Linked DNA regions of Homo sapiens. The protein of the gene in region 2 purifies or fractionates together with the protein of the main gene of each other region. This does not show direct contact. Each region holds a gene or a part of one and is shown on either strand. Other genes may lie near its edges. The genes, in order: NGLY1 and CER1.

Region 1 (15,236 bases), on a different chromosome or scaffold from region 2:
ATCACAGCTTTGAAAGGATTAGGACAGAGGGAGATTAGTTAGGAAGCTATTAATACTGCTTTTATCAAGGTGTTATCACTTGCCTCCCAAAAAGCGTACTGGTCTTCTTGATTTAGTTTTTATATGCTTTTCAATTCAGACATTACTGAACAATGTTATTTGCTAAATAGCAAATTTTAATCTTTGTGCTCCTGGGAGGATACCTCTTTGAGAGGTAAAGAATCTGTTCTAAAACTCTGAAAGCAGGCTGCATGTGATCTGTCATGATACCTGGTTGGAGATTACTGAGAAAAACGGTAGTGAGAAATAGGTTTACTATTCAACAGAGCTAGAAAATCCCTAACTGGGGGCATGCTAGTACAGAACCAGAAATACTGATTTAGATGGAATACTTAAGTTATAACGACAATTGTTACTTCCGAGTTATCACTCTCTACAAGTAAAGATTCTAGTATTTTTCTTCATTTGATACTAAATACATGTAGCTAGAAAGAAATTCACTCAACTTAAAAAAAATGGTACCCTTCATAAAAGTATATCAAGGCATAAGCTTTACTTGAATAGGGGTGTGTTTTCTATTTAATGGCCTTTGTCTATCATTTACATTATTTAAATCTTTCTCACACTATAGCCCCTCTCTGGCTAAAATGTTCTATTTGGAGATCTTGAAATACGCCACGTACTCCATGCCTTTTTGTTTCCTTGCCTGATAAACACCTACTCAACCTCCAGTGTCCAGCTCAAATGTCGTCTGCTCAGTGGAGCTTTGCCCAACTCCTACAGCCAAAGCTAATTACTCCCACCTCACTGTTTCCATAGCAATGTGTTGATATCCTTATTATAGCACTCTGCATCATGGTTAAGATGGCGGTTTATGCTTTGGCTTCCCCTTTTAGATCGTGAGGTCAGGAATCATCTTTTTGTTTACGTAGCTGAGAATAATGCCTGGCACAACAGTACAAGTTTGCTGATGAACAAATGAGTGTATAAGACAAAGAAGAAATACTCCATACAGTAGTTCTGTTTCTTGGCATATCACATCTTCTGTAACACATCACTATTTTCCCCATCATTACTACTTTACTAACATTGCTGGTTAGGAGGAAACACATGATTTTTCTCCATTTTAGCAAGTATAGACTAGTCATTCGATAAAAAACCCTTTTATTCTATCTTGCTTTCTGTTCAGAGAAATTCTTAGGCTAAGGATAGTCTTCTAGAAGATGTTCATCCTCTCTCATCAACTGTACAACTAATTACAGGTATCTCGAAATTTTAAATTTTATCTCTATTTTTATGCATTTCTTTAGCTAAAGAAGAAAATTCCAAAATTTAGAATAATCCTGTAAGTTACTAATACAAAAATACCTCAACTTTTTTAGTATTAGACAATGTGATATAAATGGAGTATTTCTATGTTTAAGCAGCAAGATAAGTTTTTGAACAAAAACTTATGATTGAAAAAGAGAAAAGCAGAGACCTTATCTCTGTATGTTTTTGGTAATTTGATTAATGCCTAGTACAGTGACAGCATGTAACAGATGCTCATAAACACTAGCAGCTGTTTATATGTGACTCACTTTTTTAATCTATCCAATATATTTTACAAGTGAACAAGTTCCCACTCAAGTATCTTGGTAAATTAACTTTAAAAGCTTCCTATAAGTTAATTAATTCCTATGAAAATCTATCAAGAATATGATCAGATCTACTGAGGTCATGTGAATAGCTTTAAGTTTATTTTGGTGTGTTTCTAAGGAGCAGGCAGTTTTAAAGCAAAGCCTCTTATTTGTTACTGATAGCATGTGACGATAATATGCAACTTGGTATAAATGAACTGCTATAGTCCTAACCTCTACTTAATTATTTTTTTAAGATACAGAGAAGAAATAACCAATATTGCTGCTCAATCATCCACATTCTTTGAAGTGAATGCCTGTTAGATGTTTAGCTTTCTGAAACTTTGAACTAAATCTATTATACTCCCTAAATAGCCTGTATTTAATGGGCAATCAATACACATCTGTGAAGGAATTAATTCACAATATAATGTATTTATATATACAGTATCAAATAGAATATATATGTATATATGTTCATGCAAAAATCAGTCATATGGATTGATCATACATTTGATTATTTTTTCCCATGAAAGAATTAAATTCATCCTCTTTGATGAAAACAGATACTTCCTTGATATAAATGCAAGAATTTCTAGTGGACTTTTGATTACATATTGGGGACAGAATTTTCTTTTCCAGGTTATAGGATTACTGAAAATAAGTTTGATATATCAGTTTTCATATTTTACACAACTGAAAAATGAAGCCAATCTATATTTGTTTAAACAATGACAAAAGTTTTAAATGGTTTTATGCATTAAGTTACCATGTGCCAGTCTGTTTCAACTTTTCTGAATATAGATTCCATTTTCCACACGCCATTCTCCCATCCAGAAATGGTTTGATTGTTATTTGAAACTCGAACATAACGATCTTTCACAATATTGTAACAAAGGTGGAGCTGTTTAGAAATCTTCTCATTTTCACAGGGAATAAACAAGGTTTCTTTTCTCTTAAAAAGAAAGCAGAATTAGTTTTTCAACATTATGAAAGATGTAAAAAAGAAAAAAGAGAAATTACTAAGCAGAGTGGTAAGAGAATCCTTCAAAATTGAAAAGAAAAAATTAGTGCCATTGGAAAATTTGGAAATTATTTTATAAATTAAATATAATCAGTATGATGTTATTATAACTCTAAACATTACTAGAGAGAAAAACAAGAAGTATGAGCTCTGACTTATATTTTTGTGATTTTGCATTCAATGAATTCATTAATTTTTATTCTTTTCTACCACCACCACTATCCCCCTACTTGGACTTCTACAATTGTCTCCTGAAGCTGACTCCCAGCTTTCAACTCTTACCTCTCCTATCCATGCTCCACATAGCAATGAAAATGACTTTTCAAAAAATGTAAACTAGGATATGTCACTTTCCTGCTTAACTCACTTCAGTGACTTAAACTCCAAGCTCTTTACCACGGCTACCAGGGCCTTATGTGATGGTTCACCCTGCTTGCTTCTCCAGCCAGATCTTCTGTTACTCTTCCCTTTCATTTCTACACTCACATCACATTACTTTTCCTTTAGTTCCTCAAAAAGGTCCAGCTCATTTTGCCTCACGGCTTTGACACATGCTGCTTACTTTGTCTAGGATGCTGTTTTCTACTCTCCACATACTGGATTCTTTCTCATCCTGAGTCCTCAACCATTTCCTCAGTGTCCTTTCCTAGTTCCCTAAGCTAGGAGAGCAGCTGAGAGGTATAGCATGAAACAGTCTTCTGCATGTGTAAAATTATTACAAAAGCTTGTATTTTAACCTTAAAATCCCAGGCAATCTTTGCATTCTAGTCCAAAATAACATTAATATTTTATAAAATATTTTAATTCTAAGATTAAAATAAAACTTTTCTTTCTGGAAATGATAGTACCAATGTTTCTTCTGTTTCCAATTGATTGCAAGATTAATTCCAAAAGTATTTAGGATTAATGTTTTTCTATTTACTTTTAAAACAAACATCCATTTCTAAAGGAAAAAATGATTTCTTTTTAAATCCATGGCCCTAAAATGGTCTCCAGCAATTAAGAAACTTAAAAAAAATTTCAAAAGGGAAAACAATGTGGTATGCAACCCAATTCATATTTTTAAAGTTAATCAACTTCCATGCCATGCAAGAGATAGCACACCCATGCATAAAAAGAAATGAAGACCTAAATAATATCCATGTTTTAAATTGAACACAGCTGCGAATTAAATTAGCTCTTTTTAACTGGCTGTATTTAGATTTATACTTGTAACACACTGCATTGGCAGTGATTTGAATTATTTGTTGAATTTGGATCTTGTAATCCTATGGCTGAACCAACACTTTTAACTGCCCGCTACAGACGATGGGATAAATTAAAAAGCAAACATAAAATTTATTAGTGATAATTCACTCCTTTAAAACATATTCTGTTACTAGAGAAATGAACTGTAACAATGGCAAATTTAGAAAAAGTAGATAAATACAACTTTAATTTGTTTGGAACTGCTTGATACTGATATTGTGATGAGTTATTTTTCTTTCAAGCATTTTTCATTGCATATTTCCTAAACATTTTATTAAATGCTCTCCAGTGACTCAACTTTAGCTCCCTAAGGGCAAAGGACAGTCTATTATACTGCCCTAATGCCTGTTACAAAGCCTAGCACACTGATTTTTACCTAGTCCCTTAACTTTAGGACCTACCTATGGAAATTATATTTCCATTGTTATTTAATTTTGGAAGATTAATCATGTGGTATCTTAAAATAAATTTTAATATAACAGTAATCATGCCACCAACAATTTCTAGCCAATATCAGATATATGCAAGCATATACCAAGAAATAAACACTTTCATCAGCTGAATTCCCCAAATTCTGTATTTTCTCCACTCCATAAAGTTTTCATCTGGAGAGGAAAAACGTAAAACAGCATTCTTTTAAATGCATTAGAATCTCATTTTAAAAGACCTAAATAAGCACTTCACAAAAGAGAATGAGGATATCCAAAAGTTTAAAGAACAGGCATTCACCATAATTAGTCATCACCAAAATGCAAATTAAAATCACGATACTACTATACGCCACCAGAACTGCTAAAATGAAAAGATAGACAATACCAAGTGTACACAAAGATGTCGAAAAACTTCATATACTGCTGGTGAGAGTATAAGCTGGCATAACCATTTTGAAAAACTGTTTGGCAATATGTACTAAAGCTGAATATACTCATACTCTATTACCTAGCAATTCCACTCCTAGGTATACATCCAACAAAATGCCTAAACATATTCACTGAAAACGTGAATATAAATGTTCAGAGCAGCACCATTTATATCAGCCAAAACTAGAAATAACCCAAATAGCCATCAACAGTGAAAAATTACATTCATACAATAAATTATACAGCAATGAGAACATACCATACACGTTGCAACATGTATCTCACTGACACAAAGTTACACAAAACAAGCTATATACAAAACAGTACATGCTATATGATTCCATTTTATAAAGCACAATAACAGGCAAAACTAATATATGATGTTAGAAGCCAGAATAATGATTACTTTCGAGGGTGTAAGGCAGTGGGGAAAGAAACTCACGCTTGTTTCTACGGTTCCAGTGATCTATTTCTTATTCTGGTTGGCGATTACATGGGTGTTAAATTTGTAAACATTCATTAAGCTGTACATTTATAATTTGTGCATTTTCCTGTATATTCTTCAGTAAAAGTTACACTGCACTAAAAATTTACATAAGGTAAAAAAAATTTTAAGTCCCATTTTAAAAATGCTTTGCTAACTCTTACACGATAATGCTATGTAAATCAATTACTGGTTCTCTTCAAATGTTTGCATTTTAAAATAATTACTCTCAAGTTAACTGAAAGGTCATAGTCAATGCAGTTGGAGGATAGTATAGGAAGAGCATAGTATATGAAGCAGGAAAGTAAAAGGATCATCATGCTAGAATGAATTAAATACCTGTAGACCCATTTCACCTCGGGCTACTCTCCAAGCCACTGACCCAGATATTCTTCCCCCAAGTTCTCCAGGTTTAGGGGTTTTGGGAGATATAAATTCAACAAGCTCCACAATTATCCTCTGGAGAAGTTCTTTCCTTCTGTTTTCTGACAAAAACAGTTGCCTCTGTAATTCATGTTTTTTAAAAAAGTTGTTAAGATTAGGGGAATGTATAGGTCCATCTCTAAGCAAGAATATACTTAAAACACTTGCATTTTAAGAGGTCTTGAAACAAGTACTGAATTTTATTTTCAAACATATATTATTCAGAAAATAAAAAGGACACTGTGGAAAACTTAAATAATTTTATAAATTTTATGTTGGGAAATCATTTAACACCTATTTCCAACTCTCCATGAGCTCTACTGTCCTAGATTTATTTATAATGAAGGTAGCAACTTCTGTTTCTGGATATGATAGACTGGCTTGTGTCAGAATGTCTTACTGAGAAAAGCTAGAAAAGCTAGTGGAAACACACAAACAGAACACTCACATATAAACACCTGTTTGAGTGCAACAGAAAGCTGTAAAGGCAGCCAGAACTTGAGAAGTCAAGATTCCAAGAGAAGAAAAGAATTGAGGTGAAGGGCACATACTGCACCTCTTTTCCCTTCCAGTCATTTGTCAATTATTAAGTGGCATGAGAAGAGGCTGAGAAGCCAAGGACAAAATAGTGACTAAAGTGCTGGAAATCAAAGCAGAATTTTTAGCAGAATCACAGTGCTGGGGTAAAAATAAACTGAGGGTCAGAGTGTTCTAATGCAAGGGGATCTAGCAAATAATCCAGGTTTTCAGGTAGAGATCTCCGAAGGGCTACACATCAGGAGTAAGTGCAGATTCAAAATAGACTGAAACCTCACCTGGAATCATTATCACTGATTGGATTAATGTGCTCTGCCCTGTTCTAACTGCCTGCTACAGCAAAATTCACTGCTTATTTTTTAATTTATGAAAAAAACCCACATGTATAGAGTTAAAAATTTCAATACTATCAAAGGGGTATAAAACAAAAATTGAACCTTTCATCTTGGAACTCCAGTTCCTCCTCTCAGAAGTAGTCATTGTTAATAACTTCCTGTGCCTTGCTTCAGAAATTTCCTCACATGGACGTGTGTGTGTGTGTGTGTGTGTGTGTGTGTGTGTGTGTGTGTGTGTGTGTATGTACATACATAATACATAAATATGAGTCTGTGTCATATCCAAGGCACAGTTACACTGATAAATAAGACAACACATTTTTTGTCAGGTACTACCAATACTGAAATTTTGTTTCAAAGAACTTTGAAATGAGACAGTTTAATCCAAAATAACTCATAATATTTAAAATGAGTCCGCAAAATTTTCAATGAACAAAAAGAATATTTTTATTCTTTAATATTCAAAAAGAATATTAAAATATTCTTGTTTATAAAACAATGCTACTACTTTAAGAATTTCAATAGGCTAATAAACGGCTATTCTCGATTACATAAAAAATGTCAACTGTTCTTTCAAAAAAGATAGCCACACCATACCTGCTTATTAAGCCCATTAATAGTGTCTCGAAGTAATGCTTCTTTAACCTTAGTTCTTCTGGCAATCACCTCTTCATGTTTGCAGGAATATCGCCAAGTGACATCAACTACCTGAAACAAATAACAGAATACAAATACTTAACAAGATTACAACCATCAACCTTTACTTACTAAATACCTAGAATGTATGTAATTTTTAAATGCATTTTTTTGGAGACGAAGTCTCGCTCTGTTGTCCAGGCTAGAGTGCAGTGGCGTGATCTCAGCTCACTGCAGTCTCACTTCCCAGGGTCAAGAGATTCTCGTATCTCAGCCTCCTGAGTAGCTGGGACTATAGGCATGCACCATCACGCCTGGCTGATTTTTGTATTGTTTTAAGTAGAGATGGGGTTTCACCATGTTGGCTAGGCTGGTCTCGAACTCCTGACCTCAGGTGATCCACCCACCTTGGCCTCCCAAAGTGCTGGGATTATAAGCATGAGCCACCACGCCCAGCCTTAAATGCAATTTTTAGAATACTATCCTTTGTTTAAAATTTAAAAGTCATGGGGCCTGGTGCAGTGGCTCATGCCTGTAATCTCAGCACTTTGGGAGGCTGAGGTGAGCAGATCACCTGAGGTCAGGAGTTGGAGACCAGCCTGGCCAACATGGTGAAACCCCGTCTCTACTGAAAAAAAACAAACAAAAAAAATTAGCCAGGTGTGGTGGCATGTGCTTGTAATCCCAGTTACTCAGGAGGCTGAGGCAGGAGAATCGCTTGAACTTGGGAGGCAGAGGTTGCAGTGAGCTGGGATCATGCAACTGCACTCCAGCCTGGGCAAGAGGGTGAGACTGTCTCGAAAAATTAAAATAAAATAAAATAAAACGTAAAAGCCTATAAAATAAACGGAAGAGAATACGTCACTTATTCATTCCTAAACAGTTGATAGTTTAACCAGAAACGCTATGATAAAAAAGTGAAAATTTCAAAACATTACCTTTTTAAAATTTATCTGCAAAGCTGATTCCACAAAATTCAACAAATAAAAATTTTATCCATTTTTATTGTATTAGATTTATATTACAGAACTGATTTTTGATACAAGTGGAAAGACAATTCAATGGAGAAAAAATAATCTTTTCAATAAATGGTGCTAGAACAATTCATTATCCATATGTAAAAAAAAACTTCATACACCTTGGATCATATAAAAAAATTAACTCAAAATGGATTGCAGACATAAGCATAAAACCAAAAAAAACTTCTAAAACAAAACATAGGAGAAAATCATTGTGACCAAGGGCTAGGCAAAATTTCTTAAATATAACATCAAAAAGCACAATCCATAAAACAACCAATTGGTAAACTGAACGCCAGTTTCTTCTCTTCAAAAATCATTAAGAGCATAAAAAGACAAACTACAGATAGGGAGAAAAATCTTTGCAAAGCACATATCTGATAATGGACTTATATAAGAATATATAAAGAACTCTCAAAACCAAACAGTAAGAAAACACAATACCCAATTAAAAAAAATAAGCAAAGGGGACATATGGATGGTAAGCAAACACATAAAAAGATGCTCAGTATTATTTGTCATTAGGGAAGTACAAATAAAAACCATAATGAAATGCCACTACACACCTATTAAAGGGGATAAAATTAAAAAGTCAGATCATACTAAATGTTAGCAAGGACATGGAGAAACTGGAAACTTACATACTGCTTGCGAAAATGTAAAATGGCACAACCACGTTGGAAAATAGTTTAGTGGTTTCTTAAAAAGTTGTATGTATATCTACCATATAATGCAGCCATTCTACTCCTAGGCATTAAGCAAAGAGAAAAGGCAGCATATGCCCATATAAAGACTTGTGTGCCTGAGTGTTCATGGCAGCTTAATTTGAAATTGTGAAAAAAACTGGGAACTACCCAAATAGCCATCAACAGGTGAAATGGTAAACTATGGCACATCCATACAATGAATACTGATTTGCAGTGATGATTTCAGTGTATACAAATAAAACTTATCAAACTGTACAATTTAAATATATGCAGGTTATTGTATGTTAATTATACATTCATGAAGCTGTCATAAAAGAAAAAAATATATTTTACTTTTGGAAAAAAGTTTTTTTCTTTTATGCTCTACCTCATCTTTTGAAAATGCTATGACATAGGAAAGCTTCTTGCCCCATCCTATTTCATAAAGGAGTGGCTTGTCACAGACATCTTCACATGCATCACAGTGCAGCCACCGCTGCTGAGAAGGAGAATAGACTTCTGTCCAGACATGGTCTACTCAAGTAAGAGAAAAGAGAGCAATGGAAAAAAGACAATGAAATCAGAATGACTTTCAATAACTATACACAAACTCCTAAGAATCATAAAGTAATGCATAATATTCTGAATTTCAGTTAATAAGTGCATTTTGTGGCACACAGGATTTTAGAATACCTGTATTAATTTCTGTCTCTTTGAAATCCTTAAAAATGTTTTTCCAATCTCCTTTAACGTGGTCAGTTTTAGGCTTAATGTGCGCTGTAACTCTTAAGAAGGTAGACATATTAAAGAGCAGCATAAAAAATATCATCCTGAGTTTACTATCATGAAGGAGTTAATGCCACTTTTGAAACTACAGTCTCTCTCTCTGGACTTTAAGGCCCAGAACCAGCAGGAAGTCTAATAGAATCTCTGGTCAATACATGCTTTATATTTGATTTTAAGAGAACACTAACTATTAATGGAAGGTTTCATTTAATTCTTTAGAAAATGGAAACACAAGGAAAACAACTTTTTAACATGTAGACCACACAAGTTATTTCTAAATAGGGACAACACAAATATCACATGACTTTTATTATTTCTGTATACTGTGCTTTAAGTTTATAGTTTACTAAATTTTTTACAGTAATCCCTATAGCAATGAAGATTTCTATGGTACATTATTACATGTTTTTATCCATATATAAACAGCATCACTATAAATGCCACGGTAAATTGCTAATAAAAGAAACAAGACCTAGTGTTTGATAGATCAATAGGGTGTTTACAGTTTACAATAATCCACTGCATATTTCATAATAGCTAGAAGAGAGTAATTCAAATGTTTCCAGCATAAAGACAAATATTTAAGATCTCAGACATCCCAATAATACTGATTTGCTCTGTAGAATTTATATAAATGCATTACAAGTATCCCCCAAATATGTACATCTATTATGCATCAATAAAAAAATAAAGGGGAAAAAAAGGAATATTTATAGTGCAAAGCACCAGGCACAGTGCTAGGTGTTTTACAAAACTCTTGTGATCCCTTCAAAAAACCTGGAAGGTTGGTATTATTACTGTTTTACACAAGGCAAATGGAAGGTCAGACTGACAAGGCCAAAAAGTAACAGAGAATCATGGGCTCAGAATGTAAACCCAAACCTGCAAGCCTGCAAAGCCCTACTACCCTCTGCTCATTCCACATTCTGTACCTGTGTAATCCCAAACATAGCGAGCTTCAAACCCTACAGCTCGGCAGCACAGTGTAAAACAATTGGCCCACTCGCCACACCGTCCACATCTTGTTTCCAAAAGTTTCTCAGGGTTATTATATCTGGTTTAAAAAGAAAAAAAACCTTAATTATCAAAATCAAGATTTTTAAGAGAATTTACATTACCTCTATGCTAAACAGAAATGTTTAATTTTTTTTTTTTTTTTGAGACGGAGTCTTGCTCTGTCACCCAGGCTGGAGTGCAGTGGCGCAATCTCGGCTCACTGCAACCTCCGCCTCCCAGGTTCAAGTGATTCTCCTGCCTCAGCCTCCAGAGTATCTGTGACTACAGGTGCATGCCACCAGGTCTGGCTAATTTTGTTTGTATTTTCAGTAGAGACGGGGTTTCACCATGTTAGCCAGGATGGTCTCGATCTCCTGACCTCGTGATTCGCCCGCCTCAGCCTCCCAAAGTGCTGAGATTACAGGTGTGAGCCACTGCGCCCGGCCTTTAATTTGTTTTTAAATATTTATTTAGAAATCTAGAATATATGAGGCACAATGTTAGAACATTTGGTGAAAAATAATTAAACGGTAGTACTGCTTTCAAGGTGTTCACAATCCTGAGGAAAGGGATGAACACAAATAATTTAAATATATGGCAGAATGTGATCAAACAATACAACAGGTCAGATTAGTGATCAAACAATACAACAGGTCAGAAAGTGGCTGGTGAGGAGAGCTTTTATTTGATCTGTGTTTTGAATAATGTAAGATTTGGAGAAGCAAATTCTCTAGGCAATTTGCCTAAAGCATTAGCACTAAAGTGGTATAGCTAGCTCACTGTATTTAAAAGGTAAACAACTTTAACAAATTACTCAACAAAAATTTTAGCTTAGTTTAATTCAATTTTATCTAAAATATTATCTTTCTTTCTAATAATCATTTTGATTAAAATTTTACTCTTTTGAAGTATTTAAAGGTGCCTGCTAATTTGGAAGTTGTTTTTTGGGATCTATTTGTAACATTCTTTTCAGAAGTTACTCCAATTATAAAATTACCAGACAATTCAAGAACACTAAATTTTGCATTTTGTGTTGAGATGGGTTTTGAACTGATAGAGCTGAGCAGGAAAAGTGCTGCAGCTGAGCAGAGAGGTCAGCCACGTGCTTTGGAAGGAAAGGAAACAGTGGCATAAATGAATGGGCTCTGCGATGACAAGTCTGTTAAGCAAATGCTTAACCAAGCATTTCTTAAGCTAAATAAATGAATTTATAACTTAGGTAATTAAATTTTTTTTTTTTTTGAGACAAAGTCTCAAGTCTCACTCTGTCGCCCAGGCTGGAGCGCAGTGGCACAATCTTGGATCACTGCAACCTCTGCCTCCCAGGTTCAAGCAATCCTCCTGCCTCAGCCTCCCCATATAGAGAAGAGCTAGAGGTTAAAACAAGCACATGATTAGAAACTATGTCCTAAGCTAAAAAAAATTAGATATTTTTAAAACGTGGTATCTTTCCTTGACTGATAATACAACCAGACTTTATAAACATTGCCAATTCAGAAAATCTGAAAACAGGCTTATAAATTAAAGAATGGAAATTAATTTAAAATTTAAAATGTCCTTAGTTTAAAATTTAGAGATATGAGGAGTAGGTTAGGTTGGGCAGGGGAAGCACCTAACTAAAACAAACTTCTGCTAATAAGACTGATAATAATAATGCTGATTATTGTGAGAGTGAATACAATTATGTGTTTAAAATAATCATCCGATGATAATATGGAAGGTAAAAGTATACCTCAGCATTATTATAAGTATTGTTAGCTATCAGACAGTTAAAAATTAGGAATTAAAAAAGTAATACAAGATTTATAGCATTAAACATGTTATGACTATACTCAAGTTATACTTTAGAACAAGAGTCAACAAATTTCCTATAAAAGACAGATGGTGAATATTTCAGACTTTGTGGGTCATATCATTTCTGTCACCATTATTCAACTCTGCTTGTTGCAGCATAAAAACAGACCATAAGCAAATAAATCAGCATGGTTATGTTCTAATAAAACTTTACTTACAAAAACAGGATGTCGGCTGGATTTAGCCTGCCAGCCACGGTTTGCTCACCGGTATTTTAGAGGAATATATTTCTGATAATTAAATATTAAAAAGTTCATTTAGTAAAAACTCTCTTCTAACTATTTCATTAAGAGATTATTCTGATTTTACCATCCAGGGCACCCACCTTGGGAATCGATTGCTGAACTGGCAGGCATCACAGTAATGATCTTCCACTTCCTTTGCACCCCACTTCAGCTCATCATCACTGGGCAGTAATGATCTATCTCTAGACCTAGTCTGTCCACCACATTTGCTGCACAAAACGTTATTCACCCAGTGAAAAAATTCTTCCTTAAACCAGTGCAAAAGCTCCAGCAAAAGAAAATCCTCATCACTTATATTGATACCTGAGAAATTAAGGGAGGACCAAGTAAGAGCTAAAACTGACAAAATTTAAACTATCCAAACATATTTATTCTCAAATACGAACCTGAAAAATATGAAAACATAAGATGATTTTAAGGTTTTCACTAATAAGAGGCAAGAAGAAACTGTCATTTATTAGGCACTAGGCTGAAATACAATGACAAGTATAACTGCACATTAAAAACAGTAGAACATTTACCATTTTATATCCTCTAACTGACATTATGCATTAACAAGTGAGCTGAACACAATGACCTCTTAGGGAACTATAGTCAGTTAGGAATTGATCCTGAAGTACAAGGGAGGTAGAAAAATAAATTTGATTTTGAAAAACATTTAAAAATGGGAAACATTGAATTTGTTATCAGGTATATACACAAGTAAACATGAAACAATCACAAAAGGCAGAAATCACAGAATTCCAGACATTTAAAAAATCATCCTATTAGCCTTTCTATTAGGGCTTCAACTGTACAATATAATCCATCCATGGATACTCATCCCCAAACACATAAAAACACAACCATATCTCTAGTATATATAACAACCCTAGTAAGTTATAACATGACAGATAATATACCCACTTTTCCATAAACAGATCTCTCTTGTTCATATTCAAGACCATGGTATCTCTGGCAAGAAGGGAAGGAGAGGGAAAATCAATCTTAAAAACATATATAGGGGGTTCTCATCTCTATCTTTAATGTTTTATGATTAAAACAGAGTGATAATAAAACATAAATATGAAGGACATATATAGCATAATGATAAAATCTAATAAAGCTTGATGTTGGTCATAGGTATATGATATATTATACTTTGTTCTTGTATTTATGTTTGATGTATTTCAAAATAAAAAACTACAGAAAAAAAAACTACAGAGAATGTAAAAAGGCCAGAAATATTTATGTTCCTGGAGGGAAAACTCAATATTTCTAAAGCTGATAACCTTCCACAAATTAATCTATAATTTAATATAATCCCAATTAAAATTATAAAATATTTTTTCATAAAATTTGACAAGCTAGCCAGGTGTGGCGGCTCACAGCTCTAATCCCAGCACTTTGGGAGGCCAAGGTAGGCAGATCATCTGAGGTCAGGAGTTCGAGACCAGCCTGGCCAACATGGTGAAACTTCGTCTCTACTAAAAACTACAAAAATTTTCTGGGTTTGGTGGTAGGTGCCTGTGATCCCAGCTACTTGGGAGGCTGAGGCGGGAGAATCACCTGAACCTGGGATGCAGAGGTTGCAGTGAGCCAAGATCATGCCATTGCACTCCAGCCTGAGTGACAGAGCGAAACTCTGTCTCATTAAAAAAAAAAAAAAAAAAAAAATTGACAAGCTAACTACAAAATCCCATGTGAAAGAGAAAATGCACAAAATAGCCAACACAACTTTGAGCAAGAATCATAAGGTAAATTTGCCTACCGTGTATCAAGACATATTATAAAACTCTAATATTTAAAACAATGTGGTATTAGTGAAGAATAAACAGATCAATGAAACAAAAGAATTCTGAAAGACAGATTTCTAAGCAAATGCACAGTATTTAATAAAGTTAGCATTTTAAAGCAGCTCTAACAGGATGGACTGTTTCAATAAATGATATTAGGACAAATAGCTATCTATCAGATCCCTACTATAGTTCATTAAAAAAAAACTTTCTCTGGAATAATATAAAATAATAGAAGTTTATAGGTGAGTATGTTTATGTTTATGACTTTGGGTTAGGAAGGTCTTAGGCAAGCAAGATACAAACTGTAAAATCAATAATAAAAAAATTAAATTTTCTTATGTTAAAAATAAAAACTTTTGAATTTCAAAAGCTACACTAAAGAACTCTGGGAGGAAAAATTTGTAACATGTCTAACAAAGAAAAGATAAATTTCTGGACGGGCACGGTGGCTCACGCCTATAATCCCAGCACTTTAGGAGGCTGAGGTGGGAGGATCACTTGAGGTCAGGAGTTGGAGAACAGCCTGCCCAACATGGTGAAACCCCGTCTCTACTAAAAATACAAAAGAAAAAAAAAATTAGCCGGGCGTGGTGGCAGGTACCTGTAATCCCAGCTACTCAGGAAGCTGAGGCAGGAGAATCACTTGAACCTGGGAGGCGGAGGTTGCAGTGAGCCGAGATCGCGCCACTGCACTCCAATCTGGGCG
Region 2 (15,977 bases):
AGATCATCATTCTAGAATATATGGAAGAGTAAACAAGTAGCAAAAACATGCAGTTACTTGTTCCTGGACAGTAGGATTCTTAAAGTCAGGGATTATATTTAGATAATCCTCTACTCATTTATTCATATTCTTTGTCCCCAGCACAGTGACCAGGCTCATCATAGACATTCATAACTATTTGTGGACTGAATGAATGAACCCCTCCAACTCTCATTCTCCTTGTCAAAAAAAATGAGTAGAAAATATCCACTTCTAGGAGATAACAAATATAAAGCATCTGAGCACATAGTAAGAACTCAATAATTAGTAGTCCTTATAAATGTACTATTATCATTGCCTTAAAATTTGCATACATTATCTCTGCTACTACATTGTAAGCTCCAGCGTGGCAGGAAATGTGTCTTATTTATCTTGGAATATCCCAAGGTTCTTAGCACAGTGTCTTGCATAGAATAAATTAAATTATCTGTAAAAATTCAGAGGATAAATAAAAGTCTTATTTAGGAATTAAACTGACAGGTCAAAGAAATTGCGCAGATTGAGAAAATCAAAGCTAGGTTAGCTACTCTCTGTAAGGAATACTTAATTTCTAGAATGGAGATAAAATATAGATGGGAAAAAAACCTCTCAAAACTTTGTAAAAACAAACAAGAATTATGTGTGGTGAAAAATGCCATTATAGAACAATTAATAGAGAATATCATGTACATAATTCAAAACACATAGCTTTAATGTCACCGTCTCAGAGACCACTTAATCTAATCAATCTCTAGCATATTTTAATTATTTGCATACCACTTATAGCCATCTGATATTTTTCTTTTTGAATTGATTGATTGATGAATTGATTGATTTTCAAATTACATATCTCCCCCAATAGAATGTAAGCTCTATAGGAGCAGTGATCTTGTCTGACTTGTTCCCTTTTTGTATTCATGGCACCTAGAGCTGTATCTCGTACATAGTTGATGGACAAATAAATACATGCTGACTAAAGTAGTGCATATAAAAAATAATACTACATATTGTTTATGGAAGTATATATAAATTAGCAAAAATATAGAAGGGAATTGAAAGTATAAGCAGGAATTTTTAGTGGTGTGGTGTTTTGTAGGCAAAAGCTTAGGGAATAAGACTCAGTATTGTGGTCAGAAGGAACTTTACTTATATCTGAAATGGCTTATTTAAAAGAAGACTAGAAGCAAAAGATGACAAAATAGTAACTATTTATTTCGTTTATATGAATTTCAGTGTTATATTATTATTTGCGCTTTTCCGTGTGTTTTCAATTTCTCAAAACAAATTTAAAAAATAGAAGGTCTGAACGGAAAAGAATAAATTAATCCCTTGTAGTTTTACAGGATCTAAAGTTCTCTGAAGTGTTGTTATGTACACTTGATCATCACAATAATTTTGAGGTAATTATTACCAGCCTTATTTTATATGAGAGGAAAATGAGACCAGGATTTATGAAGAGGTGTGCCATGAGGACCAACGGAGTCAAGGAAATATTTGGCCGATAACCTGACCTAGAGATGATTTCTCTTTTGAGATATAACATCAAAATCCTTCAGATAGGAGAGCTAGGTAAGTGGTAAAAAGAAATTTGCTTTGAAGCCTATAGGCAAGAGACCTGGAAGAGTTCAATATAAACTGACAAAGAACAAATGAGCAAATATTTTAATCCAAAATAGAAAATATTCTCCAAATGCTCTTAGGCAAATTCTGAAACTTTTAAAGGCTTGCTTTTCTTACCCATAAAATACAGTGATAACCTACTTTATATAGTTTTTGTGAGGATTAAATTGTTAACTTCTTGTAAAAGACAGCACAGTATCTGGCACTTAATAAATGTTCAATATTTGTGTTTTTCCTCTTGGTTTCTTACAGTCTTACATATTATGTTCAACCTTTGTAAATTGCCTTTTTTGTAAGTAAAAATGATTGAATATGAGCAATTTTGTTGAATTTCATGCAATTATTCTATAAATGTAAGGTTTGATACCACTATCAACTATCCCATCTAGAATTTACATGCAAGGGAAGCGCAGACCAAAATTTGAATAAAACAGATCATTGTTTGGGGTTTGGGCTTGAGAGTCTATTTGCAAGGATGGATGAAACGGATTTACAAGCATGTAAGGAGGAGAAGGACAGTCCAATTGGCAGAGATAGGTTTTCATAATCAGGGTTAGGCGATTGCAATCATGACAGCTGTTTGATAGCTTTTGGCACCAAAATATATTGACCAGCTGAGATATCATTAATGCTTAACAATTTTATCCTTATGAGCATATCTTGGCCAGCTAGGTTGCCTTTGACCACCAAAGGGTATGATAATATATTCCAATGTAAATGCCATGTGTGCATCTGTGTAACTCACATTCATGTTGATGTGTTACAAAATATACACTAAATATAAATGCCTTTGCTTCTTTGGAATGTCATGTTAGATGGTGTGATTAAAGAGGAATAGAATTAAAATATAAATTGATTTATTTAAAAAAAACAGTTATTCTGGGAAATGTGTGTATGTGTGTGCACTAAAAGTAAAAGAAACCTAATTATTAAAATAATTTTTAGGAACAAAAATTTGAATAACTTAATAGAAAAAGCAGTCTGGCTGGGAAAAGGCAGTTCTGTACCATATATGTGTAAAAATTAACACAGACAGGAGAGAGGTGATTGAGAGACTTAAACAGAAGGCTGCTTACAGATCAGAAGAAACCCTTGGTCCAGTGTCATAAGTCTATGAAGACATTCCAGAAATGCTTCCAGCTAGGTTATCTCCTGATAGTACCTTTAAATTATGAGACAAAACAAGTAAGGGAAAAATATAAGAACATTTTTCAGAATGCTTCATATACTAAAATTTAATGCATTAAAATATCCAGAATATTTTCAGAACCTGTAATTTTGGTACTTGCTGAATAAAATTTATAATACAAAGTTTTATTAAATAGCAAAAAACAGTCATTCAAACATAGAAACCTTACTACCTAATTCAAAATGCATGTGAGTAAATAATTTTGCCTGAAGATTGAATTTTTGGGGGTTACTTTCATTAGCATCTCTGGATTGATCTCTAAACCTGGTAGTAGTCATGTATTTTTCCTTCCTCATAATATAGGTACTTGTTTGGCTACCAGTGATTGTTCCTCTTCCCTATATAAACTACTAAAATTAACATCACTGTTCCTTCTTCAAAGTCAGAGACCTGACATTAAGTACTTTATATGAGGAGTATTGTTAAAAAGGAGGCAACCAAGCAAGTTACTCCTTACATCTGTGGAAAGACTTAATCATCAGATAGAAGTCAAGTAAAACACTGTTTGGGTTGCAAAAGTAACTATAAGTATGAGAATCTTTCCTACAAATATTTCACGTAGCCTGCCTCCCTGCCTGCCTGCGTGCCTGCCTGCCTGCCTGCCTGCCTGCCTGCCTGCCTTCCTTCCTTCCTTCCTTCCTTCCTTCCTTCCTTCCTTCCTTCCTTCCTTCCTTCTTTCCTTCCTTCCTTCCTTCCTTCCTCCCTCTCTATCTTGCTTCTTTGCTTGCTGGTGATTTGACACACATTAAAGAAGCCCATTTTTATGGTCTCGCTTATTTCTTTTCCTTCTTTAGATGGAGGGCTTTTACCCAAACTTGGAGAAAATGCATCACGGAATATTAGTAGTGGAAAGGATTTTAGCAATCATCTAGGTCGGGTCCGTCATTTATAGATGAAAATCTTTAGATGGAGAAAGGTTTTACAACTTAACATTCTACGGCTAGTTAGTGGCAGAGCTGAGACAAGGTCTCAAACGTGTACCAATAACTAGACTAATATCATTTCCTCTATCGTTCTAATTTAAAACTACGTTTCAAGTCACCTTTCCCTGAAAATGTTATGTACCCACTTAACATTTTCAGACTGAATAATCAGCATCTTTGCTGTTGTGGTTTTGCTTTTCAAAGGTAATAGTGGGATAGCTCTTCAAGCTGAAACTCCTGGGATAAAGGAATCCTGGGAGCCAGCATGTAGGATGTGTCCATCTTCATGCTCCGTCTTCACCTTGCACTGGCACTCCTCCACCAGCATCACCACCTTGATCACGGAGGAAAGTTCAGTGCAGTTCAGTGGCAAGTGCATCGTGGTGAACTTGGCAGGCAAACAGTGAGAGCAGGAGGTATGGGAGTGCTGCGCGGCTCCAGGAAAATGAACAGACCCGCATTTCCCAAAGCAAAGGTTGTTCTGAACAACTACTTTTTCACAGCCTTCGTGGGTTATAGTCTAAAAAGCAAACACATTTCCATTACGTTATTTTGAATTATTTCTTTAACACACATAATGCAGAAGCTATGGACTGTAAATCTGAGGATAATTTAAAAATTTCAAAGCTTTCCAATTTTGGATACAATTTGCAATATGCAAGTGATGGTATCTATAAGGGCACAGAACCACCTCAATTAAATTTTCTTTATTGAGTAAATTATTAAACAGCCTTTAGGGAATCCCTAAGTTAACATAAAAAATATTTTACTCTACATTATTCGTGCAAAACCTTAAGCAATTTTGTCTAATTGGATGTGAGCGATTGAAAAATTCTAATGGTAATTATCTTACATAAGTAATGTGCCTTACTTTTTTATTCCTCACAGGGCTTTGTGCATAGTAGGCTCCCAATACATATTTGTTACATTGATCGTAGAATAGATCAGAACATTCTAGGTTTAATTCTATCCTATTCTGCAAGACCTGTAGTACATTCAAGTCTATGAAGTTGTATGCAAGCAGAGTTACAATGCATATGCCTGCAAATCATTGTATATTACATCACCTTTACCTCTCATAACTCCAAGCACCTAGCTTTATATGCCTTTCAAAATATGTAAGAGTCAAACATCTTAGTTTTAATTTAATTAGCAATAGAATTCAAAAGAAGAATTTCAAAAGAAATTTGATTGCCTGATTCTTAGGGGTAATTTTCTAATTGCACATGGCCAACAGAGTAGTCATTATTATTTGATAATTGACTTGCCATTGCTACATATCCTTGCCTTTTCAGGCAGAATACTTAACTGCCTTGAACAGTCAATTGCCCTATTCTATTGCTTGCTTAATTGGGTAGCATTACTCGACTATAAAATTTTACTCTACCCTGCATGTTTTTGGTTCAATATCTTCATGTTTAAGGACCTAATGCAAGTTCTCAATTTTAATTTAACATTTGGAATGTAGATATTGCCAGAGGAAGTAGACAGTAGGATGTCCCTTTGTCTTAATAGCATGGAATTGATCATAATAACTACAAATCAGCCAACACAACATGAATCAGGAGAAAGGTACTTCTAAGGGGAGGAGATATGATCTCACATCAAGATTGATTTTTTAAAAAGCTCATATGAGAAAATAAGTGAAAGAAAATCACTTTTTTGCTATCATAATACTAGAAATGATATGACAACTTTTGCCTGAGAACCTCAACGTACTTTGAGGTTGTGGGATAGCTTTAGCAAGCTATTAAAGAAGTCCCTCATAAACCTATAAAGTAATTAAGTATGGACTATGGGGATTAAGACCATCGTAAATGGATATGAGAGTATTTGGGAAGGAGTCCAATGCACCCCACTTTATCAACAAATGGAGTTGACCTGCTCATCCACATATTAATAGAGTGCAGAAAGATAGCTACAGAGGAGTTCTGGTGATTACTCTAAATTCTCAGTTTCCTAACTGAGGGTACAGTCTGACTTATATCTCTGAGTAGATCACCTCCAATGCAAAAATAAATAAATAAAACAGAGCTCTGTGTCTTCAGTGTGAATGAATGATTACTGATATTGACAGTATCATCATATCATTCTTGCAGCATTTCCACAATGCCAAGAAAAAATGGAAAGGCCAGAAGGAAACTTAATCTTTGCCAAATCCTATGATGAATGCCCAAGGACCAAATCTGTAGTTAAGCTAGAGTCAGGCTCCTGACAGCCTTTTCCCCTACTCTCCATCCATCCCAGCTGTCCACTACCACCTGCAAACTCTTACCTGCTCTCCCCCCAGAACACATACCTGGCTGAAGGGCACTGTCCTGCAGGTCTCCCAATGTACTTCATGGCTTTTGATGGGCAAGATGACCCCCTGAGAAGCCGGAGTTTTTCTGAACATGAAGTGGTGCCAGAATTTCTTGGCTTCTTCCCGAAGAGGAGATTTCTCCATTTTCATTCCATCTATCGGCTGGATGAGGGACTGGGTCCCAGGTGGGAAGGGCTCACTATCTGAGTCCCTGGATGGATGCATTTCTCTCTCAGGCTTCTTCCAGAACCTGCCAAATCTGGACAGCATCTTCTCTCTCTGCCTCTGGCCTTCCCCTGCAGGGCTGGTGGCTACAAGGTGTGGCACTGCGACAAACAGATCTGGCTTCTCCTCAGCTTCCTCATGGTTGCCTGTGGGAAGCTCTCTTTGATTCCTTGGCAGGAGTACGGGGGAAAGAGAACTCTGATTCTGGCGGCCATCCTGGTGCCGTGTGGTCTTTCCTAGAGGCAGGAGTACCAGCAGCTGAAATAAGAGGAGATGCATGCTGTCAGGGGCCCAAGCTTCTTTTGTAAATGATGAGGCCCAAAGGAGAGGCTCATTCTCTGCAGGACTGGGAAAAAGGAAATCGTATATATAGATACCTGCCTGGCGGGATGGGAAGGCAGGTGGTCAGTAGCCAGGCAGAATAAACACATTTATTGTTTGCTTGAATTATGTAGTGCTAATGGCCTCCTGCCGTCACTTTGGTTTTGTGTATTTTAAAAGGCCCCAGTGAAAGCCTGGGACCCAGGGGGTAATTAGCTAAGAGTTTAGCTATGTCTGGGGCTTAAAGAGCAGTATTAGCAAAGACAACACATTCTTTGCCTAAATTTCCCATGGCTGTTTTCAGAAGAAGGACTAGAGTCAGCTCACATTTGCTGTGCATCTGCCTTGTGCTGGAATAGAATAGACAAGACATGTTGCTGTAAGAGAAGTTTTTGGATAAAAATTAAAGGCATACATTTAGAAAAAGCCCAGGCCTTTAGGAAGGCTATTCACACACACACACACACACACACACACACACACACACACACACACACGAAGAAGTATATCAAAGTTGTAAGGAGAAGAAAGGAAGAGCTAGAAGGATGTTAATTTTTTTGAGCAAGGGACATATTGTTTCTTACTTACATGCAAATTGGGGTTATTGATTTTTGCACAGTAACTGAGTAAAGGGAATATGTTTTCCTTTCCACACGTAGAAACTCACAATTCCCAAGTTAATCCTCTCACATTAAGAATCAATTAATGGGTGCTAAATTTCACAACTGGTCAGTCATCAGATAAACTCTTCCAATTGTTCACATGTTCCTCAACAGGATACCACGTAATAGACTGACAGCTCATCAGTCTTCAATGAGGATAGGGAAATGTCTCCCTCCAGCCATCCTATTGATTTTTTTTTCCCTTTGAACAAAGAGCCAGACATGAGAACGTGGATTCTAAGAACCAGGTTTGATAACTTTGTGTGTGACGCTGGCTAGTCAGTTTCTTACCTTATTGAATCCACATCATCTCCCCTTGTTTTACACTAATTGATGGCCAGGCTAAATAAAGATTGACACAAATAAGAGTCTTCGGGGATCAAAGGAAAAATTGAAAAATAACTATCATTCAAAACTATCATGAATCAGCCTAGGATACGAAAAAGAAACACGTCCAGAAAACTGAAACCCCAGAATAGAGTCCGATCAGCCTACCACATGATTCAAACAGTATTTCCACTGGGAAGCAATGCAATATCTGCTTTTATTTCTCCCCTTTTAATTCAATCACTATATTCCTTGCTTTCAATAACACAAATAGTCCTGGAACATGTTCCCCCTTTTTTGTCAATACTGATTAAACTTTCTTTCCAAGAAGTGACCCACTGGAGTCTGTTTTCCAGGCATTTCTGTTCTTCTTGATAGCCATGCCTGATTTCTATGAAATAAAGCCTTAAGTAAGTCCCTTTACCCATGATAATGAGCTATTTTTAACATGGACCATCACTTTACCAGAATGCCATGAGTGGAGATATATTGTACTTGTACCAAATATCTATGGAACGTGTGCTAGTATTAATGAAAGGTGCTGTTGATATATAATAAATAAGCATGTGTATTTGCCATTGTTTTTTTTTATTTTAGGAAAAGGGTTCTGCTCTGTTGCCCAGTCTGGAGTGCAGTGGTGCAATCATAGCACTCTGTAACCTCAAACTCCTAGGCTCAAGCAAGCCTCCTGAGTAGCTGGGACTACAGGCACACTACCACACCTGGCTATTTAAAATTTTGTGTTGTTGTTGAAACAGAGCCTCACTCTGTTGCCCAAGCTGCTCTGAAACTCTTAGCCTTGAGCCACCATCTTGCCTCTGCCTCCCAAAGTGCTGGGATTACAGGCGTGAGCCACCATGCTATGTCAACATCTTTTTTTTTTTAATTGACTGCTACTTGAATTTCTTAATTCCCCTCAGCCATCCAATGCTATACGCTTTCCAGAGCTAGTCACTAGGCCTCCTGGTATAATATGGTGTGGAAGCCAGCTGTGATACCTTTCCTGAATCCTTTTAACTGTTACTTTTCAGTAACTGAAATTCCATTGTTATCAATCAGAGTATCTACTATTTCCCAAAACTAAAGACAATCTCAGAAATTCTATCTCGGGTCTCAGTTTGCTTGGCTCTGGAATTACTGAACATGAGATACAGTTGAGATAATTCCTGTTGAACTGCAATGTGTAGAAGACTCACTTTGTGTGTTAAGAATCATATTAGATACTGGTAGATAATTGAAAAATGAGTAAAACTTTGTCCCTGCCCTCAAGTAGGTTAGATAGTCTAGTGGGATTTCTTATGCATCATCTAACTTTATTGTATAAAATCATCTATAGGGATGTCAGTTATCCATTTTTCACTTTCCTTTAGTCCTAAACTTCCCTTCCTCTGATCCTAATTTGGGGCTTATAAGTGCCATTTAAAAATCACTCACAGAGAATATCCTTTTGCTGTTCTGTCACTTCTTTTGAGAAAATGTGCAAATATCTTGAAATATTCTCCCTACTCCCATTAGTAAATACTATCCGTGAAAAGTAAATCTAGCAAAGCCAAGCCTTCTGTGATGAGAACTATGAAACAAGCCTATCTCCAACCTCTGCCTTTTTCAGCTAAAGGCAATGACTATCACCTTTCACTATCGTGTCCATTCACCAATTCTAAAGCCATTGATACACTGTGTGTGTATAATTATGTGTGTATAATTATGTATGTATAACATGTAATATATGTATAATGTAATACATTATAATCTCTTAAGAAAATAAGTGAAGATTTTGTAGCTTTCAGCAAAAATATGCTGCCTCTGTTGGTCTTCAGTTGATACAGGCATCTAGTTACCTCCCAATTTGGATGAACCAAATGGAAATGGAAGTAGGTCTGCAGGAGGTCTCCAGACCCAGTAGGAAGCTTTCATGAGGAGACAGCATCGCCAATTATTAGTGCACTTAGTACCAAATGCCACAGTGAAGGGTGAGCCTGAGTTCATGTGAGTGAGCCCAAGCCTCCTAAGTCCACTTCCTGGGCCAACCCTAGACATGCATGAGAACCAGAGGGGCCAATCCCAGAATCCATTCATTTCCATTTACAGTTCAGGCTTTCAGCAGAATCTGACTGTTTTCAACTTGACTTGGGTTTCTTAGGCACTAAGATGTCTTCAGGAACTCTAAAGACCTCGAGAAGATACTTAAATAAAAAATGTTTTCATATGCTGGTGACACTTTTATAAAATGGACAAGAAAAGAGGCCCATGAGACCCAGCCGCTCAAGACACGTTGAGGTGGTTTGTCTCCTTTTCAGACCTCCCCAGTGTGCCTATGAGAGGACAGCAACAGCTACATTTTCTGTCCCTCTTACAGACTCTCAGAAGACAGTTAAAAAGAAGCCCAGTGCTCTCCAAGGGCGAACAGAGAGACTAAGTTCTTCCCTAAAAACCTATCTTAAATCAACAAAAGGTGAGAGGCAGTGTTGAGGTGGGGGGTGGACATTACAGTTAAACAGGACAACTGAGAGCTGGAAAAGGACATTTGGGTTGAAGGATTCAGGAGAGAAATCTGACTGGGGAGCATGCCACTGCCTCATCACTACCTCTCTTTTCAAAATACAGAATAGCAATCATGTCATGGCAGGTTAGATTATTTTTTTTTTAACTCAGAAGAAAACAGGACCTTTTTTCTTATTTTCCAAGGAACAAGGAAAAGGGAAAATTAGGATATATGATTTCCCCTTAAACTTTTAAATAAACAATTTACTTAATTATTCAAAATGTACACTCCCTCCTCCCCTTTCCATGGAAAAGACACGTGAGGAAGAGCCCCATTCCCTGAAGCTGCTCCTTTAACTGGACTAATTCTTTCATTCTTACAGCGCACACCTGAGTGCCAGCTCTGTTCTAGGAACTGGAGATAAGTGTTGAGAGTGTCTTTGTTCAGTTTCAGGTCTAGTGGATTTTGCAATCTATAGGGACAGCCTAGTATATTCAAAATAAGTTTTACAGGGAAAATTTAGGCCAGGCATGGTGGCTCATGCCTGTAATCCCAGCACTTTGGGAGGCGAAGGTGGGCAGATCACCTGAGGTCCAGAGTTCGAGACCAGCCTGGCTAACATGGTGAAATCCTGTCTCCACTAAAAATACAAAAATTAGCTGGGCATGGTGGCTGGTGCCTGTAATCCCAGCTGCTTTGGAGCCTGAGGCAGGAGAATTGCTTGAACTTGGGAAGTGGAGGTTGCAGTGAGCCAAGATCATGCCACTGCACTCTAGCCTGGGCGACAAAGGGAGACTTCATCTCAAAAAAAAAAAAAGAAAGAAAGAAAGAAACAAAATTTAGGCAGGCATCATTCCTGTACTAATCAGGGACTTTCAAGTAGAGCCAAATCCCAAAGATGCAGTGAACTGTATGCTTTATTTGTGCTAATTTTATTCAATAATAAATATTTGTTGAATTCAAGGAAGCACTGTAGACATGGTGCAGTACATTTCTTTTATTTTTGAGTAGGTAATAAATACGCATAGTAACAAAATTCAAATAACACACAAAAAAATGCACAACGAAAGGTTGATCTTCCTCTGACTCCACCCCAGGCTGCCTGTCCTTGCCATGGAGAGAACCATTATTATCAGTTTCTTTATTCAATCTTTTAAAACTGTCACCCAAAGATACCAAAATGTGTGACCAGTGGAAAAGGACAAATATCAAATGGTGTAACTGCCAACAAAAAAATCCCCATTTCCACTTCAAGGCACTGATGGTTAGATTGTCTTTTAAAGATTAGATTATTCTGTTTGTAGTTTCGGTGATCTCACTGCCCTCTGTTCAAAACACCCTCCAACACCATTGAGAAATAGTTTTCTGTATTCTGGGTATTTTGTTTTTTGCATCTGAAGATGTATCTACTACTGTGCACAAGTCATGGACAATATCTACATGTGTCTAATCATCTCCCTACCAAGACTGCAGAGAGGGCTCCTGCAAATCTGAGAATTAGGCCAAGGCAGCCTGAGCTGTCCCTCACCATGTGCCCCACCTTCCTACCTGTCCATCCATCTCCAATGCCTGTGCCTATACTTAGAGCCAGTTCAGGATGCAGTCACTGATGCAACATCTCTGTCCTGCTCCTTCTTCCTCATCTTTAAAATTTACCTTGTCTGTTTTTCCTTCTGTAGAAAGCTGATCTCAGAGCTAAGTAATGTCAGTGGAACTATCTCTGGACTTGAGGCCAAAAAAACTAAATCTGATTCCTCGAACTGCATTACAGCTTGTAAACTCTATGGCATCAGGCACTTAACTTTATGTCCCTGAATGTCTGTAGAGGCAATATTACTTGCCCTGTCTTCCTCATTTAGTCCACGGTCCTTCTTTTCACCCTGAATCTTACTATCATCCTGGGTGACTTCAGTGTCCATGTGGTTGGGTTTGACCATTAGCATTTCATCAGTATCCCATGGAAGTCCCATTCGATACCCTGGCTGAAATCTGACTGCTCTCATGCCAATTGGCCTCCCTACCCCGATTACATTCTGACCCCTGTTACTATCAAGAACAGCTCTACCTCTAAACTGTGAATTCACATTCCACTCTCTCATAACAATATTGTGTTGTTTCAGTTCCTACAGCATCTGTCCCGTACTTTATCTCTATCATAGTACTACCACCTTTGTCATGAAATAATTTTTGACTGAACATTTAACATCTGCCTCCACTTAAGATTTTTTTTTTTTTTTTTTTGAGACAGAGTCTCGCTCTGTTGCCCAGGCTGGAGTGCAGCGGTGCAATCTCGGCTCACTGCAAGCTCCGCCTCCAGGATTCACGCCATTCGCCTGCCTCAGCCTCCCGAGTAGTTGGGACTACAGGCGCCTGCCACCACGCCCGGCTAATTTTTTTGTATTTTTAGTAGAGACGAGGTTGCACCGTGTTAGCCAGGATGGTCTTGATCTCCTGACCTTGTGATCTACCCGTCTTGGCCTCCCAAAGTGCTGGGATCACAGGCGTGAGCCACCGCGCCCGGCCCAGATTTTAAAGTCCATAAAAGTGGGGTCTTTTTAGTCATCAGCTCAGGCTGTAGCACAGCCTTTCACATAGTAAATGCCCTAAAATATTCATGTAATAATAAATGAATAATGTAATTAATTGATTAACATATATAAATTCTTTGTCTTCATTTTCTTCCCTATCCCACTTTAATTCCATGGTCCATCACTTCAAACTTTTGCAATATTTTCCCTAGTCCCTTTTTTATTCTCTCACACACATCTAATAAAAGTCCAACACTGGGCCCGGACGTGGTGACTCACGCCTGTCATCCCAGCACTTTGGGAGACCGAGGGAGGCGGATCACCTGAGTTCAGGACTTCGAGACCAGCCTGGCCAACATGGTGAAACCCTGTCTCTACTAAAAATACAAAAATTAGCCAGGCACAGTGGAGCCCGCCTGTAATCCTGGCCACTTGGGAGGGTGAGGCATGAGAATCGCTTGAGCCCAGGAGGCTGAGGCTGCAGTGAGCCGAGATTGTGCCACTGCACTCCAGCCTGTGCGACAGGGCGAGAGTCTTTCTAAAACAACAACAACAACAAAAAGTCCAACCCTGAAAACACCCAGCTGTTCATCTTAACTGGGCCCACGCCTGGGATAGGGAGTGCTTTTAGAGACACAGACAAAATGGGCAAAAATGGATTCTATACAAATTTCCTTCTGTCTCAACGGAACCCTCAACTCTGCTCACCAATCCTTCTCATTCCTCTATTCAACTCACTTTTCATTTTCCATGTGGGTTAGTGAAAATCTTCTCTAATTACCTAAAACCTTTGACTGCTCTGCCTCTTTCCTCGTTTTTGATAGATGACCCCTTTTTCTGCAGAGAAAGATAGAACCCATCAGATAAGTGAGTCTCCTTACATTTGACCATCAAACCACACCAGTTCGTTTCTCCTTTCCACACTGCTGTTGGAATCACATCCTTTCCAACCACTTTACTCCATAGTCTACCCTGAATGGTCAAACTTTTGCACTCCACTGGATGCTTTTATATAATGTTTGATCATTTCAAATTTTCTTGATTCCATAGAAGTTTTCAGGTTCTGTACTTCAGTGTTGTCTTCTGCGTTTTCCAGTCAAATATTGGCAAGCTTTCTCCCAATCCAACCTCTACTTTCTCACATCCACTTCTGGATTTACAAGGGAGACATCTCCTCCATGTCACTGAGATGTATTTGGGACTCTGAAAAGCCAAGTTCCTTCTTGATTCGGCTATTCGGTGATTCCTCGGGCTTGTCTTAATTTGGGTACATGCATATCTTTCTAACAAGGAAGAGAGGATCCTCAAGGGCAGGGATTATGTTTGCTGGAGACTACATTGTCAGCAACTTTGAGAAAAGGGATTTTGTTTAATGCATTTTTCTGTTTCTTTTCCATTCCTGGTCCCTCAGTCTACATTTAGGAGGTGAATGGATGTTTGTTTTGACATACTGAGTCCAATAAAAATGCGAAAGGAAACTTCTGACATAGGCCCTTGTTGTGTTTTACTTTCTAAGAAGTATCGCTTTGTCCTGGATAACTTATACTTAATTCTCTGTGTTTAGATTCTATTTTAAAATCAAATTTCCATGGAATCTGGGACTAAACCATTCTTCATTTCCCAGCCTGGCCACAGTCTCAGAGCAGGCCTTAGAACATTGTCACACCAGCCACAGTTCCCAGGCATGTCTCCCCTGAAGGATAATCACACTCCTAAAAAAGGTAATTCATGCCAGAGGACTATATGTCTGTTGGGTAACTTTATGCAGCTTGTAAATTGTTTTACTCCAGTTGGAGCATGGGGGTGGTGTATCACCAACAGAAATGAGTGTAGGGGGCATCTGTCTGAAAACTGTTCCCCCACTGGCCACCTTGCCAGTTTCTGCTTATACAATGCAGGCAGCTTGGGGGAACCATATTGTCCCTATAAGCTCATAACACATGGACAAATGATTAAAAACACATGGAAAACAGTTCCACAGCTAAGCTAAAATTCAGATGGGAATGGAAAATCAACTTGCAAAGCTTTCAACTGACTCAGGGCCAAATGTAGGACAGAATGTGAGGAGAAGTTGCCAAAAGAGAGGAAAGTTGGGGAAAAAAGCAAGTCATGGATAGGAAACCTAAAACAATGACGCCTTGTATTGACAACGCTTCTCTAAGGCTCTCCAAGAGTAGTACCAAATTCAACTCTTCGGAAATATTAAGACCTTCACTTCATGAAAGAGTTTAGACAGATTTATATTTTCTACCCTCTATACACAAGAGTTGGCTTGACTATCTTGGCAACACCTAGGCAGAAACATAATCTTAAGTATCTTAAGTAACATAAATATTAAAAGATTACACATTTTTCCTCCGAGGTGTGGGAATTAAGTAACAAGGTGGCATGAGGCAAACTGTGAAAAATTGTGACAATAAAATGAAAAGCAAAGCACAATTTTCCGGTCAGGGTTTGCCTTCTGTTGTACCTGATGCTGGGCCCAGGTTTGCCATCAAGCTGGCAGGCCTTAGTCACATTCGCAAAAGTTCAACTTGGTTCAAATCTTAAACTCTAAGAAGCCTGTTATTTGTGTCTAGTCACTAAAATCACCTCAGTGATTCTACTGGGTAGGAAATCTATAAGCAAGAAAATAATTTACTGGGAGCCAGTCCCTGCTGGGCCATTCTGTGTAGCTTCTGCCCTGAATCCTTACTGACTCCCACATACGCTGAACCACCTTTCTCTCTGATGAGCAGCACTTAGACCTTCAAATGTTGATTTGGGGCATGATTTGCAAACAGTCCTCCTCAATATATGCAACAAATGTGTTCTTTCAATGCTGAATGTAAAAGGAAGTTTTGAAAATATGGCTCCATGGAGGAGCTATGCTCTTTGGGCAATAGAAAATATCACCCAAGTCCAATCCATTAACAAAGCAAATAGGATCATCCTTTCTGTCAAGTGAAAAACTATTCCCTAATTTATCTCTCTTTAGAATGAGATTTGTGTATCATTGATCACATCTGAAAGCAAGATGTCCTGGGGTTTTAGAAAGGACTCCCTTAGTCATGTGGATTCCTCTGAGAACTGAAAACACATGTTGAACACAAATGTCCTAGCACACAGGAAAGTTCTCACTTGTGATATGGCAACTTAAAACCCTAATTCTCCCACCCCCAGCTCCTCCTTCCTGCTGGGGTTGGTTACTGGTGAGAACAAGCACTGCTTGAAGTTGTCACCCTATTCCAAGTGTGGTCAATACTATTCCATTGTAGTCAAAAAACATATTTTGTATGACTTGAATCCTTTAAAATTTATGGAGACTTATTTTATGTCCCAGAATATGGTCTGCCTAGTAAATATGTCATGTGCACTTGAAAATAATGTACATTCTGCTG

Evidence for each region.
Region 1: the proteins of CER1 (region 2) and NGLY1 purify together in Homo sapiens (co-immunoprecipitation; 2 studies listed by BioGRID and IntAct, with this or other methods). This does not show direct contact.

The regions. Positions count from the first base shown.
Region 1 is NC_000003.12:25,726,745-25,741,980, forward strand, and holds part of NGLY1 (peptide-N(4)-(N-acetyl-beta-glucosaminyl)asparagine amidase), read right to left. Parts: intron 13,056-15,236; coding exon 12,833-13,055; intron 10,712-12,832; coding exon 10,590-10,711; intron 9,657-10,589; coding exon of another isoform or gene 9,565-9,656; intron 9,406-9,564; coding exon 9,260-9,405; intron 7,239-9,259; coding exon 7,128-7,238; intron 5,740-7,127; coding exon 5,575-5,739; intron 2,575-5,574; coding exon 2,389-2,574; intron 1-2,388. UniProt on the Homo sapiens protein: Specifically deglycosylates the denatured form of N-linked glycoproteins in the cytoplasm and assists their proteasome-mediated degradation. Cleaves the beta-aspartyl-glucosamine (GlcNAc) of the glycan and the amide side chain of Asn, converting Asn to Asp.
Region 2 is NC_000009.12:14,716,117-14,732,093, forward strand, and holds CER1 (cerberus precursor), read right to left. Parts: upstream 6,618-15,977; 5' UTR 6,557-6,617; coding exon 6,050-6,556; intron 4,271-6,049; coding exon 3,974-4,270; 3' UTR 3,608-3,973; downstream 1-3,607. UniProt on the Homo sapiens protein: Cytokine that may play a role in anterior neural induction and somite formation during embryogenesis in part through a BMP-inhibitory mechanism. Can regulate Nodal signaling during gastrulation as well as the formation and patterning of the primitive streak.